2 separate regions of the Homo sapiens genome follow, and region 2 is linked to region 1. The links come from fine-mapping of genetic effects on gene expression. Tissue or cell type: liver. Region 1 holds a variant in brackets; the other region holds the start of a gene. All regions are shown on one strand. Distances are between the middles of the regions.

What was found. PIP is the estimated chance that this variant, and not a neighbour inherited with it, causes the effect.
Region 2: TRIM9 starts here. The variant in region 1 is fine-mapped to the expression of TRIM9 in liver (GTEx, PIP 0.92).

Annotation. Positions count from the first base shown.
Region 1 is chr14:51,024,942-51,033,046 of GRCh38, forward strand. TRIM9 (tripartite motif containing 9) reads right to left here. Exons shown (of 13, transcript NM_001387360.1): 2 at 324-419. Among named protein-coding and RNA genes, the nearest start is that of TRIM9, 66 kb to the right of the region's middle. RefSeq lists an enhancer at 3,450-4,649. The variant T/C (reference allele first, on the strand shown) is at 4,543.
Region 2 is chr14:51,091,418-51,099,522 of GRCh38, forward strand. TRIM9 (tripartite motif containing 9) reads right to left here and starts at 3,688. Exons shown (of 13, transcript NM_001387360.1): 1 at 2,701-3,688. The coding sequence starts at 3,522. RefSeq lists a silencer at 3,680-3,749.

The sequences.
Region 1 (8,105 bases):
GCTCAACAATAAGGACCCTGAGTTTACAAAAAAATAGGCCTCTTTCTGAATATTCAGTAGTAGAGAATTAGGACCTCAGTGTGGAAGACAGGAACCAGTTGGAAAATCAGGCTGTGTTTCCGGCTTGTTGGCAAAAAGTAACTACCTCAAGAAGGGGTATGTTTGAAGTTGATCTCTATGTGTTTGTATGTAAAGAACAACAACAACCACAAAATAGGAATTTTCCCACGACACATAAAAATAAAAGAGGAGAAGGAAACTCTCCCGCCACACAGTTACGTATTAACCGGCGGGTTTCCTTGCGTCCCAGGTAACACCCATACCTGGATCTGCTGGACCATGTTGCGCAGCTGTACCAGAAACTCCTTGGCTTCTTTGGCCCTGTCTGACAGTCCGTTCAGCGCCTGGGAGAGCTGGCTCTGCAAAGACAAAGAAGGAAGCCATGGAGCTGTAATCACAGGATACACCAACAAGGCCAGCGAGACTCAAAACTGAAGAGTCATCAACCTCCTCAGATTCCTCTTGTCTGAGGTTGGACCTTTTTGCTGGCATTTGTACAGGTAGATTCTGGTGTCGAAACTCCCTGTGCTCCTGAGTAGTTTCTCCTTGGAAGCAGTGAACACTTCTGGCCACAGCAGTCAAAGGCCCTCACCAGCTGATATCAACCTAGAATTTCTTCATCTCCTCCTTCATTGATTAATTAAACAATCATTTATTGAATACATATTTGCTAAGGACTAAAAAAGCAAAACAAAATAGTGAGTCAGATGATCTAATTCTTATCAACGTTACTTAGCACAAAGGGCTATTGGTCTGGGTAGGGCAGAAAGAATAGAGTAAAGAACAGGATGAAGGAAGGGGTAGGTACTGGTGTGATCCTCTGGGGCCACTTAAATATAATCACAAATTCAATGGGCAGGATGACATTCCACTCCTGCCTCATCCGTGTCCTCTTCCTTCTCCCAAGTACAGCCCTGCTGCCCTAGCACATTTGTGTCCTCTCCTCACTAGCCTCCGACACCAAGGCTTACTCTCTTTCTTTCTTCCCACACCACCCCATCCATACGAGGAGGCAGTTCTGCTGGGTTGGCAAGGTGTCCAGGTAGGTACTTGCTCTTCCAGCCTCCTCGTCCGCTGGGGAGGCCGTGGTACACAATCCTGACGGACGACACCTAAGTGGAAGTCTGCTGGGGACTGGAGGGGTCTGAGAAAGCTTTTGCTTTTCTGCTGATACGGAACCACTGTGATTGATGCAGCCTCTCCACTGTGGTTCCTGACTTTAGGATGGATGTGATGTCTTCCGGCTCACATGAGGAGAAGGCCAATAGGGTATGGGTGGAGGGATGGGAGGGGAAGGAGCTCGGTTCTGATGGCATCTTTGAGCAGCTGAGTCAACACCTGAAACCTTCACCACTAGCTTTCTTGTTATGTGATAAAAATTAACTCCTATTCAAGTCACTGTTCTGGAGTTTTCTATTGCTAGCAGGAATTTATATCAAGTATCACTGTACTTGATACAAATTCCTTCCCCTCCTAGCAGTCTGGGTATACCCTTCCGTACCTCAGGTACAGAGACAGACTCCCTTTCCTGCACTGTCTTCTTTTCAAATTAAAGCCTATTCTCCTTGCCAACACAATGATTCATCTACCCTTTCCTTTCTGTAAAAGGGCAGAACCTTAAAATTATATCTCTTGGTGCTGTGAATGCTTTTCTCTTATATTTGTCTTTTAAATACAAAGTTGGGCACTGACTCTCTAAAAATATGCACACCAAATGCTTGGTTGAGGCAATGTGGGATGGTAGAAAGAATATAGGTTTGAAAGGGTGCAGATTCTCGCTCTATCCCCTATAAGTGTGACCTTGAGAAAGTTACCTTTGTCTGAATTACTCCAATGGAAAAGGTGGGAAGAACAGTAATACTTTGTAGTTGGGTTATTGTGAGGGTTGAATGCATTAATCAATGTGAAAGCTTCTGCTAGTTAAGGGAACAATTCTGAATTCTGAAATGCTGCCAGTTACTGGCTGTTCAACCCTTTATACATTGTTTTACCTCATCCATAAAATCAGAGGAAGAATACTATTCTTGGGTTTTGTGGGCATTGCATAAGATACTATATCTAAAGCCCAGAACCCTATTACCCTACTGGTGCACAGTGCATGATGCGTGCTTAATAAATGCTGGCTGTTAACTTTTTTTTTTTTTTTTTTTTTTTTTTTTTGAGACAGAGTCTCACTCTCTCACCCAGGCTGAAGTGCAATGGTGTGATCTTGGCTCACTGCAATCTCTGCCTCCCAGGTTCAAGCGATTCTCCTGCCTCAGCCTCCCGAATAGCTGGGATTACAGCCGTGCACCACCACACCGAGTGAACTTTTGTATTTTTAGTAGAGATGGGGTTTCTCCATGTTGGCCAGGCTGGTCTCAAACTCCTGACCTCAGGTGATCCACCCACCTCGACCTCCCAAAGTGCTGGGATTACAGGTGTGAGCCACCGTGCCCAACCAGCTGTTAACTCTTATTTGTTTTCTTCATTCTTGCTCACACAAACACCTGCTGACTGGAGGGATTCGCAGGACAGATTCCTGGAACAGGGTCTGTTGGAGAACATTTTCGATCACCTGTACTTTGCTCTATGTATTTAGGCTCCAAGAGGCAAGACCAACACAACTGAGTAAGATAAAGCTCAAAGTGAGCCTACAGTTGCAAAATTCTTTATGATTGGGTCTCAGCTACAATATTATTTGGAGTAAAAGTTTCTCCTCAATAACTATTAATATTTCCAGGAGCCCAAGGGATAAAGGAGGGAAAAACGGTCTCATTTGGAAGAGCAGGCAATAATATGAGAGGCATATTTTAAAGAAGAAATTTTTTTTCATTGTTACTTTAGAACTCATATCTTTTTTTTTTCCTGAATGAGTAAAAGTTTGCTGGACTACCATAGTTTTCTTCCTCTTTTTATTATAACCTATGTTTAGTAACCACACTTAGATGTTTCAGTACAGAAGTAAAATTGATTTGGTTACACAGAAGTGAAGCTGCCTGGTGTCTTGTATTCCAACCTTGCAATTAATTGTGTCTGTATAAGACAGACTTGATACCCATAGATTTTTTGACCAGTTGCTGCTGTATACTTAGAAATACAATCATTCCTAGTAGTAGACAAAGAGTTTTGGCCCCATCTAGTCCCAGGATTTTATATGACAAAGCAGTAAGTGAACTGCAAAAATCAATTTATTTCCAATTTCCTCTTTGTGTTTATGGTCCGTCCCAAGAATGCCTTCTACCTGGCTGATGATTGTTCTGGTATTTGATAAAAAATTGCATTATAAGATAAAGATCTAGAAATCATTCTCTTAAGCTTTGTCCACTTGTAGAAATTGAGGAGACAATGAAAAATCCTGGAAAACTATCACTAGAAAGTGCTCTTATTGTAAGGATTTATATGCACATTGTTTTTATAGGTTGGTATTTTAATCACATTTATAAGCTCCATCTGATGTAGAAGAACATTGTTATTGACTGATTTTGTTTCCCAGATGCATTTAAATTCCTACTCTGTGCTAACAAAGATGTTCTGCATTCAGGACCACAGAGCAGTGCTGGAAATTTATGACCAGAACAATGAAGATGCAAATATGTAGTATGTGTTTTCATCACGGCATCTTTGGTGGTACAAGCAGTCATTTAAGGGAGAAAGGTACGTTCTAAAGCTGTTTATAATGCCTAAGCAGTGACATTCGGATTTCTTGGATATTTGTTTTCTAGGTTACTGAAAAGGTGTCACGATCTGAAGGTGAATGAGAGGAGAAAAATGATGCAGCTGAAGCCCTGATCTCCAGTCAAGTTGTTCTTGGCTGGGAGCATGCTGAGAATCACCGAGGTCTCCCAGAAAGATGACAAGTTGTTCAAGCCTGAAGGAGAGAAACAAAGAACTCTGCCTCCTCCTTCCCTCCTTGCGTGGCTTTCGTCCTCAGCTTCCACCCTGACCCTGGCTCCCCTTGCCTCCCCAGGAGGGAGAGATCAGGCACTTACCCTGGGACTGACTGTGGAGGACGTTTCAGGACCTACTTCTCACGCTCAGCAAATGGGTAATGCAATTCAATCCATCCCGCCCAATGCCTGACTTGCCCAAGCTGCTGAGTGTGCCCAGGCAGAAGACAGTATCTTCTTTCCATTTCCCACTGTAAACATTCTTCACGTGGCCTTTTCCCCTCAATTCACCACAAATATTGGATAGCGATAAACTGGGACAAATGAAAAGAAGCTTTCTGGCTGTCTCGGATCTGAAGTTACAGGCACAGGATGGGTCAAAAGGGTCACTCGAAGAGTTGGTACAAAACAGAGGAGGCGGCAAACAAGCACTGGCAGCTTGATGGCTCAGAAAATGACCCAGCTGCCTCCCCGGGCGTGGGGCACCTTCTGGTGCTGTATCACAGTGCATGCCATTCAGGCACCGCAACACCACTGGGCCCAGGAGCCAAAGCCCACTCCCGCTCCTTCCCAGGTACAAAGATAAACACAACACTCAGGAAAAAAGTGATCA[T/C]TGATGCAATGGGACTTTGAGGGAAGGCCGCCAAGGAGAATAACAGTTTTTCTGATGAAATATTGATCTCTGGGTCACATTGCTCAGCAATTACCCATTGCCGGTTACTCAGTACATTGCTGACATAGTACAATCAAAAAGTGTAAGCAAGAAATTCTAATAATTGTAAGCAAGAAATTCTAATAATTGTAATACATTGGTCATTTCTTATGAGCCAGGAACTCTGATGGGTGCTTTCAATGCAATCCCAATCACCTCCCTGCCATTTTGCAGAGGTGCCGAGAGGATACCCCTGAGTGAAGGTTTCACCACTCACATACGGAACAGCTGGAACACAAACCCTCATCTGATGGCAAACTCATGCTCTTTGCTCCAGCCTCCCAAAAAAAGAGAATTCTCTCACCCTCACAGGCCAAAACAATTGTTTAATTGTTTAATCCACGGTGAGAGCATGTACAACCAGAGAAGGTGAGAGGATGACTATGATTGATTATGAGGTGGTCTGATTATGCTTAGCAGCCAGATAGTATGTAAATTACAGCATGACTAGTTAACCTATGAAACATTCAACTTTTTTCCTGCATGAAGTTTTCTGGTGAATTTGAAAAAGTCCCCTAAGAGAGGAGTCTCATGGAGGAGGGAAGAAGCTTTGGATTCAGGTCCACTGACAACTTTGTCAACTACTGGCCTAAGATCTTGGGCAGAGATTGGGTGAAGTGGGAATTAAGTAAAGGAAGGAGACCTCACAGAGTGACTGGTACTTGGGGAACCATCAAGCTGAGCTGTCCAAGGGTCCTGATTCCCCCTCTAGGAAACATTTCTATTCCTCCTGCTTGCACCTTTAGTGCCTGCAAGAATGGATCCCTTCTCCGGTTTCTCTGGTGCTGGAAGATCCTGGATATACCCCAACCCCAGTTCACTATAGTCAGATGGACAGGAATCCTCCAAGACCAGCTGGTCTGCAGATGCCAATTTATCTCTAAGCCCAGCAAAGGGCTGGCGCAGTGAACAGGCTATGATTTGCAAAAGAGTAGCTGGGCCTGGGAATGGAAGCACACAGTATAGGGACAAAGGATGTGTGTGTGTGTATGAGTGTGCATATGGTGTGTGTGTGTATGAGTGTGCATATGCCTGTGAGTGTGTGAAAGTCTATGTGTATGTGGGTAAGAATGTGAGTTTAAGAGTGTGTAAGTATGTAAGAATGTGTATGTGTATGTATGTGATTGTATGTGAGATATGTCATCAGTGGAGTATGGGGAGGCTCTTGGCTTTGGGGGAGGCTCTTGGCTTTGAGCAAGGCTGGTATCAGAGGAATCTTATGGGTAGGGATTTGCTCCATTAAACTGCTGCTTATTGTTAATTGGTTATAAGAAAGATTCGAGGCCGGGCGTGGTGGCTCATGCTTGTAATCCCAGCACTTCGGGAGGCCAAGGCGGGCGGATCACTTGAGGCCAGGAGTTCAAGATCAGCTTGGCCAACATGGTGAAACCTTGTCTCTACTGAAAATACAAAAAGTTAGCCAGGCATGGTGGCGGGCGCCTGTAACTCCAGCTATTCAGTAGGCTTAGGCAGGAAAATCGCTTGAACCTGAGAGGCGGAGGTTGCAGTGAGCTGTGATTGCGCCATTGCACTCCAGCCTGGGCAACAAGAATGAAACTCTTTCCAAAAAAAAAAAAAAAAAAGAAAGAAAAGAAAAGAAAGAAAGAAAGAATGATTCTATCCTTGACCAAGTTATAGCCAGGGTCCTCTGAGCCCTCTTCTTACCTAGGCCTCAACCTTGACCTATAAAGACTTGAAGAAACACACAGTTTCTAACAGCTCAAGGCTGAATTCCTAAGATGACCCCAGCCTCCCTTAAGGTACCTGTCTGAGAAAATTCAAGGCTGCCAAAAGAATTCGATGTTGTTCCATTGAATACCTGAAGAAAGGGACTCTATCTGCCAGTCTCTGTGAGAGGGTAGGGGTCTAACTTCAATAAGCACAAGTTAGCACACCCAGATGGATTTCATACAGACTGATTTTCCCCTTCCTGATTTTTGGAATTTTTTCACTTCTGTAACTCTGAGCCCCTGCTCAACCCCTTTCCTATTCCCTCATTCCCCTTGTAAAGTGCCCAGTCACCTCTGTACAAATCGAAGTTGAGTTCAGTTCATGATGTACTCTTTTCCCTGTTGCAATTGTATACTGATTAAAATCTGTCCTTTTTACACATTAAAATCTTTCCTTACCACTTTAATTAGTGTCCAGCTAGTTAGTGACAGTTGCTAGCCCTGCCACTGACCCAGGGAGAGCAGGGCAATCTCTGGGCAATGAGCTGACCCTTCAGCAGGCCAAGGTTACCTTGAAGGATAAGTGAGGGAGCACATCACCAAGGATACAAATTCCTCCACCTAAGCCAGCACATCTCTCATATACTAAACAAATCTCACCATTTGTATTGTGAACCTGACTCTATGAGCTGTGTGGAGGGCAGAAAGGAGGAGGGCTCTGTGCTTTTATTCCAACACACTGTTACATAGAATCCCCTTTCCCATTCTTTGTTGTTAGACTTGCATGCCCAACCACACAAATATTCACACCAAAAGCTAATGCATAGTGACATTTACCTCTTTTTAAATAATAATTTAAGTCTAAACATGCTGTTTCATTCTTTGAACCACAAAAAAATGTATCAGACATGCCATTATTCCATCAGATAGTAGGAATTGGGCCAGACAGAGCAATGGGGACCAACATGGCATTGGAGTTAACAGGATAGACTTCAAAGTCAGATGAACTTGAGTTTCAGTGGTGGCATTTCACTAGTTGTGTGATCATGGACCTATTACCTAACTGTAGTGAATACTGTGGTGCTCTACCCAGAATATTCTCTCAAAGACTATGCATCCTTCTCCCAGCTGCAGGGAATATCAGCTGTTGATAGATTACCCTAGGAATTGCTCTTGGCCACAGGGAACTAACTGCCTTACTGAAAGCTATGTCCCCTTCTGGGGATGTCCCATGGCAAGTGAATGGCTGGGGCCCCCTTGCTTCAATTTTGGACAACCCTGAAGAACCATCCCAGATCTAGAACTTGTAGTAGGATTGGTTGAGGCCATTGCAGGTTAGCTTCAGCCTCAGTTCAATCCTGGCTTCCTCACTTCCAGGTGGATCTACCAAGAGCACACAACAACTAACTATCTCTCAGAGTCTGTGTCCAGGGAACCCAGTCTAAAATACTAAGCTTCAGTTTCCTCATCTGCAACATGGGGATAATAAGAACCTACATCCTAGGACTACCATGAGGATTACATGAAATCATGTATATAAAGTTATATGCAATGCCTAGCATATTGTTAAAATTCAATAAGTAGTACAGGTTGAATATCCCTGTTCTGAAAATCCAAAATCTGAAACATTTCAATGAACCTTTCCTTTGAGCGTCTTGTCAGCACTCAGAAAGTTTTGAATTTTGGAGCACTTCAGATTTCAGATTTTTGGATTAGTGATCCTCCACTGGTAAGTATAAGGTAAATATACCAGAATCTGCAACACTCAAAATCTGAAACACTACTGGTCCTAAT
Region 2 (8,105 bases), 66 kb after region 1:
GTTGATAACTAACTGCCCAATTTTGGAAACCTAGTTAGTATAGTTCTTTGCTGTCCTATTTTTGCAGGGCATAGAAATTCTGGCCCATGGGCTTTTGTGGAGATAGAAGTACCATTAACTAAAACATAAACTATATGAGAAAACTGGCTGCTAACACATTAACTTCCTTATTAAGTAAATAAGGTGGGGGAGTAATGTTTGTTGTTCATCTAACAGATGACAAGTGAATGTTAAAATCTGTCATCCTTCTGTCTTATTTTTTTTCTTGGCAGTTTAGTAATCCTCATATTGACTGAACAAAAATTATGTGTCCTTACTGTTTTGGAAAAAATGTGCAAAAGATCAGAGAATAAATGGTCTTCTAGCCTACTTATGTCATGTTTCAAGGGTTTTAACATTCTTTTGTGGCAGGTAGATATCTAAATCTCAACCCAGGCAGCACCAGTGTCTGTCTACTCATAATTTCTATTGCCAATAAAACAAATGATTTAACATTTCAAATTGACATGGGGCTTGACAGAGATTTAAAGGTTTCTTTTGGTCTTAATAGATCAAGGATAGGCTTGTCATAAAAAAAATAATAATGTTGTGGTTTACCCATCCTAATTACCTTGTGGCTCTAAATTCTTTTTCCTGACAGAGTGATTAATTTTTTAGTTCCAAGGATACTTTGTAGGGCAATTCAACATGGACTATAATTAGCAGTTTAAAAGTGAAATCAAAATATGAATAAAAAACTAGCTGTGAACTCAAGTTTTGAAAACTTTCAAAATTAAATGTCATTTTCAAAAATTTAAATTCGACTGTTCTGAAAACAGTGGTGTGTGCCCAGTTAGGCTTCAATTTGTGCTAAATGAAATCCCCATCAGTACTAATATGATTTAATAGGTTATATGTGAGAATAGAATGACTGTAAACATGGATCACATTCAACCGGGTTAAGGAGTTGAGAAAACTTTCACTGATTGCTGAAAATTAATGACATTTTTTTCTTGCTGTAAACAAAATATCAATGTTCCAGCCTTAACTCCACAGTTGGCCACTTGCAAAAGCTACCCTTTCTAGTCTCCAAGGAATTCTGGGAGACTCTGAGCAAGGCCACAGCTGAGGCCTGGACACTATCTTCACTGCTCCATCTCATCCTTGGGTATGCAACTCAGTGATGTAAAGAAAAGCTCCTTCCAACCATCCTGAATCCCTGCCCTGCACTCCACAGCCCCAACTAAATGGATCATTTAAAAAATGAAAAGCAAATTCATGCACATCTCCTCAAGAGTTGCTCCCTTCCTTCTAAGCAGTGTGGGCATATTATAAGGATCTTCTTCCTCATGAGGCTTATTTCGTTTATGTCTGTGTGTGTACAGGGAGCAATAGATAAATACAAAAAATAACATAATTAAAATATATAGCATGCCACACAGGGATAAATACTACTGAGGAAAATAAAGCTGAGAGGGAACTAGCGGGTGTCTGGGTGGGTGGCGCTGCAAAGATGATACCTGAGCAAAGAGCTGAAGGATGCAGGTAAGTGACCCATTCGGATCTCAGGTAACTGGGGAAGAGAGCTTCAGGCTGAATGAACACCAAATGCAAAGGCCCTGGAGTAGGGAGGTGCCTGGCGTCGTTTGAGGAACAGTAAGAAGCAGTGTGGCTGGAGCAGAGGGAGTAAGTGGGAGGCAATGAGGTCGAAGGGGCCAAAATGGAAGAGGTCATGTAGGACAGGCTGAGAAGCGTGGGAAAAATTGGAGGGTTTTGAGCAGAGGAGTGGCACGACAGAATATGTTGCTAAAGCCTCTTCGTGTCTAGCCATGGTGGAAATATCATCAAAAGAGACTGGAAAGATAAATCTGGTAACAGGTGTCCCAAAGTTTGCACATATAACTACTGAAAGAGGAAAGGGCTTGAATTCCGGAGAAGTGGGTGTGTGTATAGTTGGGAGGAGAAGGTTTCCCTAGGAGATGCACCTGTCTGGCTTCCAGGCCGCGACTGCGCAAACTCCGGTCCTGACACTCTAGTCTCAGGTCCCAACTCCGGAAGGGTTCAGGCCCAAGCCTGCACGTCGCGTTGCCATGGCGACCGCTGGCTGCCCTCTCCGCTCTGTCTTTTGAGCACGTGGCACCAGGACCCCGCGTTCTCTCCAGCTCGAGAGCCAGGTCTGGCCCAGAGCCGGGCTCATCAGTATTCCGCCTGCGGCGTCTCCCCGACCCTCCGCCGTGCCTCACCAGGTCCGCCTATCCAGCAGCGACAGACTCCCGCCGTCCGCGCGACCCCACCGCCCCCATCCCAGTCCCTCCCCGAGGGTTCGCAGCCCGCCCTGCCCTCGAGCGTGCCTAGCGGCCCTGGGCACTGGCGCGGCTCTACCCAGCTATGCAGTGCTTTCCCACACACTGGCCGCGGCCACTGGCTGCAGACCCGCCGCGGAAAGGGGGCGCCCTGAGTCCCGCTCGCAGGCAGCGCGCCCCGAGAGACCCGCTCTAAGGCATCCCCGCAACAACTCTGTGGGGGCATTCAACTCCCCCGTGCGCCGGTTAAGATTCCCCCATGCCTCCTGCAATGCACCAGACCAGGGAGGTAAACATCGAAGGCACCTGCATTGCGCCCCCACTGGGATGCGCTGTGCGCAAGAGACGGGGACCGTCTGCTGCAAAACCGGATGATCGGAGACGCAGGGAGTTAGGAGTGGGTTTTCTTAGGACTCACCTTATGTAGTTTCCACATGGCCCCCAGAGCCTTGACTTCGTGGCTGGAGTGTTTGCCCTCCTCCAAGCACTGGTAGCACACGGGCATCTTGCATTGCACGCAGTACATGCTGTGGTTCTCCAGCTCGTGGTCTGTGCAGGTGGAGACCTTGCGTGGGCTCAGCCTCCGGCTCACACGACCCTGGGCCGGGGGCACCAGGCGGTGCTTGGCTAGGGGCCCCCGGGGCGGGTGGCAGCGCAGGCGGCACGGATCGCAGTAGAAGACATCGCACTGTTCGCACATGACGGTGGCTTCCTTGGGCGCCTTCTCGCAGAGCTGGCACTTGAGGGCCGCGGCTTTGCTCTGCTGGTAGCGGTCAATTACCCCTTCCAGTACGCGATTCTTGGGGAAGCCGCGGAGCCCCCGGTCATCCAGGATGAGGCTGCGGTGACACTGGGGGCAGGTGATACAGGAGTTGCGGGGCACCGGGGCCAGGGCCGGTGACAAGTGGGTGGCCGGTGGCGGCATAGCCGGGGGAAACACGCGGACGCCGTTGGGGGACTTCTGGCACGGGGTAGTGGGGGCGCTGGCGAACCCCCCGTAGGAGCCATAGCCGCTGTCCGCCTCGCTGTATAGGCTCATCTTGTCCAGGTCCAGATAGTCATAGTCGGAGACCCCGGAGCCCGCGGCCCGATGGCTCTGGGGGGATTCAGACTCTGGGGTCTGCACCAGGATGTTGCGGGCGCACGCCTGACACAAATTGTGAGAGCAGGGCAGGATGATGGGCTCCCGATAGAAGGAGCCGCACACGGGGCATTTCAACTCCTCTTCCATCTCCTCCATGGGGACCGGTCTGGGAGGAGACAGCGACGGCTGCAGCGGGTGCCTGAGCTGGCGAGGTGGCCGACGGGCCCGTCTTGTCCAGCACCCTGGCCAGCGGCGGCGGCTGTGGTGGTGGTGCCTTCCCGCGCAGCACTGGCACGGACACCCAGAGAGGCGCTAGCTCTGTGAGCCGCAGCCGCGTAGCCGCCGCGCCGCGCGCCAGCCCGGACCGCCCCTACCTGCCCTCCTAGTCCCGCCCCGGCCCATGAGCAGCGGCCCATTGGGCGGGGGGCAAGAGATCGAAGCTCTCATTGGCCACCAGACCCGTCCGTCTCCTCGTCTCCGCAGGCCACAGGGGGTTCGGTAGAGTCTGAGGATAGGGCAGTCTTCGCTCGCGGCTGCAAGATCTCTGAAGGGGGCCGGCGTGCGGAGGCTAGGGGACCGGGAAGGAGGAGTTAGGCGGGATGATTCATCCTCGCCCGGCTTACTTCCGACCTCCGGTGCAGTCTCCCAGGAGCTGGGGGCGTGAGAAACCCCTCCCCGCAGCGAGTGGGCTGCCGGAGGGGGCTGGGGCTTCTCGCCAGCGTTTGCGTTTGGCTCCCAGCTCTGAGCTCCGCGCCCACCTACCGCGGGCGAGTGCTGCGCAGCACGGAGGACGCCCCTTCTCTTCCGCTGCTGGCAGCCTTCGCAGGCGTCTCACCCGGGCCTAGGCTTCTGCACGGCAGTGGGGCTTTTCTCCTTCTCCGTGAATCCGCTGACGCCGTGCCCTGGAGCTCCCCCATCCCGGGAGTCTGACGGCGCTGGCGCAAGCCCTGGCGACACTCTTGGCTTCTTTCATCCTGCGTCCCTCGTTTCCTAAAGAGCATGTATAAAGTCGATTTCCTAGTGTCGACATGAGATTCAACTGGGTAACCGATGGAAATGGTCAGCATTAGTCAGAATCTATGACCCCTTCGTTTCATGCTTTAAATTATAGCTCGGCCCAGAGGCCTCAGTGCCGTGGTGTGAACGTGCTTCCTTCCACGGATCCTTCTTCCTCCTCGCGGCCTCCCAAAGCACCTGGCTGAGCTTTTTCGAGGCCCGCTGGGCCTTTGGTTCGGTTGAGGCAAGAACAGTTTGTCTATTTCTGAGTGCCCGTAGTTTAGTAAAGCTCTGTAAATGAATCACTGTGTGACTGCGGAGTCTCAGTGTTTCACTCCAAACAGCATTATTCAACCCCACGTGCCCTGGGCATCTGCCATAGCTTACAGCATCGTGTGCCTTTCTGTTTCTTCCAACGAGGGGCATGGTGAGGCGGTGATTCTAGTGTTAGTCCCTGTACAAGGAGGGAGGGAGGGAGGGAAGAAGGGAAAGAGGGAGAGAGGGAGGAAGGAAGGGGGGGGGAAAGGAAAGGCGGAAGGAAGGGAAGAAAGGGAGGGAGGAAGAAGAAAAGGAAAGGAAAATCTTTGAGTCAAGTGACATTCTGAGGTAGTAACATTTGAAATAGTACATAGCCGGCTTTTGCTGAATGATTCATGAAGTAAAGGACAAAAACTCTTTGCAAGTTCTAGAAATATTCCAATTTTCCACCTTCCAGACAGGAGATAACTTGATTATATGCAGCTATGTTGATAATTTAAAAGTACTTTATTGTCCAGAAAAAAAATGGACATTTTATTACACTGCCCTTGTAGAAATTGTCCAATAAACTAGGTTATCTTTTCAACATCTTTAGTTGCAGTGAGAACAGTAGTTGATCATTGTGTGGGGGAATAAAGTCCCCATTGTTATTTAAAGCCATGTTAATCATAAATGTGACGTGATTTATTTTTAAGCTGGCTTTCAACTAGTTGAGACCAGAGCATCCAAAGGTATATGCACTCTGTTTACAGACATAGATAAAATTTCTTCAGGTATGGTTGGGACATTAGCTGCACTTGCAGGATACACTTAATTTATAGGTCCCAAGAGAAATTACTAATAATTATATTCAATATAGTATTAATTGAATTGTAATGAAAGTTAATTATTGAGAAAATATTAGAAAGGAGTGTCCTTTTATGGCTTTTGTATGCATTTGACCACAAGTCACAATATCTTGGACCAGCAAGGTGAGCAGCTGTTACACTTTGTATGAGTTTGAACTCTGCTTATAATAGTATATCATCTAAGAGATCTTATTAGCAGAAAGTTTATGCTTAGTTCAAAGTAAAGAAGAATTTTAGAGGATGTCTCATGGTGTAATGCAGTGTTGGGTTCGCAAAAAGAACAACACAGGTTTATAATATAGTCAATATAGAAAGATTTGGTCTATTATGAAGTCGCTTGAGATGATTTCATTGTTAGATCTGTTTGTTTAGGAATTAGCTAAATCAGTCAATCCTAGGAGAGCTCTTAAAATGACTCATTTGTTGAGAGTTCACCCTGTTCCAAACAGGGGATTTATTTATTTGTATACATTACTTGGTTAAATCCCTGTAATTACAAGAAGAGGTAGGCACAATTATTCCCATTTTACAGATAAATAAACTGAAGATAAGCAAAGACACTTAAGTACTCAAGGTCAAATATGGTGAGGCTGGGATTGGAACCCGGACACATATAAGTTTGTTCCTTTGTTCATTCATTCATTCATTCATTCATTCAACAAGTGCTGAGTTCTACTCTCTTCAAGCTCTGAATGTGATAAGTACCCAAAATGTTCTTTGTTAACTTCTATGATATTCTGCTCACCTTCTCTGAAAGTTTACTTTTTTTTTCCTTTTTTTTTTTTGAGACTGGAGTCTTGCTGTGTTCCCCAGGCTGGAGTGCAGTGGCACAATCTTGGCCCACTGCAACCTCCACCTCCCAGGTTTAAGTGTTTCTCGTGCCTCAGCCTCCTGAGTAGTTGGGACTACAGGTGTGCACCACCATGCCTGGCTAATTTTTACATTTTTTTTTTTTAGTAGAGACAGGGTTTCACTATGTTGGCCAGACTGGTCTCAAACTCCTGACCTCAAGTGATCCACCTGCCTCAGCCTCCCGAAGTGCTGGGATTACACGCATGAGCCAGCGCTCCCAGCCAAAAGTTTACTATTTTTCTTTGAATCCATTTCTTTAAAATATTCTTGAAGGCCTTTGAAGATTTTCCCCTCATGTTGCACTGTTTGGCCATAATGTGCTTTATAGCCCCCCAATGACTTATGTTTAAAAGGGAATAAAAATTGAAATGTAATTGGTAATATTATAGAAATATTATACTATTGAGGGGATATCTTCTGTCTTCCAGCTGGTGATCAGTCCATGCCCTGAAGCACAAGGATTGATAGCCCTGTAATTTCATCATTCCTGGGATGATTGCAGATGTTCTCTTTTGTGTAAAGTGCCTAATTATCCTTTGAAACTTACTATTCACCCAAATTATGTTCTTTAGCAATGAGAGCAATTACATTTAAAGTGCAACAACAGCTTTTGCATTTTTAAAAAAAGATAAATGTTTTTCTTTTTTTGATAAATGTTTTTCAATGAAAAATTGAGTTGCTTTCCTATTTGCTTTTGACTACAATGCTTGATTATTAACAAAACAGTCTCTGTGAGTCTAAAGAATGAACACAGAGAAGAAAGGTTTTTCTTTCCACATTCTCTCCTAGAGTAGTCTATCCTTAGTTGTGGGAGGGGGGTGGAAATCAGTGAAAGGAGCTGATCTTAGGCTCTAACATTTTAAGATTATCTGACATGTATATAAAAATATTTTATTAAGGTATTTGAATAAGGGTCTTGCTGCATGTGGTTTGTAAAAGTACATCACTTGAAAAGTGATAAATGTGATGTTTCTATTCTCAATAGAAATTCTGAAGAAACTTCTTTTATGGAATAATTTACCCCATTTAGTCTACTAATATTCAATTTTATACTTATAATTTTGTACTATTCTTTAATAACATTTATTGTTGATATCCTTTGGTAATTTAAATTATTTGATTATTATAGTGAATTATGAGCTTTTTCCCATTTAGTACTACTGGAAGATGGCCATATTCAAATTCTGTAGTATTTCTTATTGTAAGTAATATATTACTGATGCTTTGGGAAGGGTAGACTGGAGAATCGGAGAAAATGAAGATTTAATGAATCCTATATGGAGGTAAGAGAGCTAGAGGATAAATCCAGAAGACCTAACTTGTGAATAATAGGAATCTCAGAATGAGGAAATAACACAGGTGGAGGGAAAACCATAGTTGGAAAACATTTCTCTGAACCAAAAAAATATATAAAATTACAGATTGAAAGGATTTTAGAATTATAGATGACATTAATGAAAAAAGACCCAGTTATATACAGACACAATTCTTAACTCAGAAGAAAAAAAAAAGATCATTTTACAAGCTCCCAGAAAGAAAGAACAACTTAATTGTAAAGAAAAAAGAATCAGATTGGCATTGGACTGCTTTCTACAACCTTGCAGGTGAAAATAATGTGAAACAAATTCTACAGCCTACTAAAACTGAAAGAAGTCACCCTGTCATAGTCCGTTTTTGCTGCTATAACAGAATACCACAGACTGGATAATTTATAAGAAACAGAAATATATTGGCTCATGGTTCTGGAGGCTGGGAAGGCCCAAATCAAGACACTGGCATCTGGTG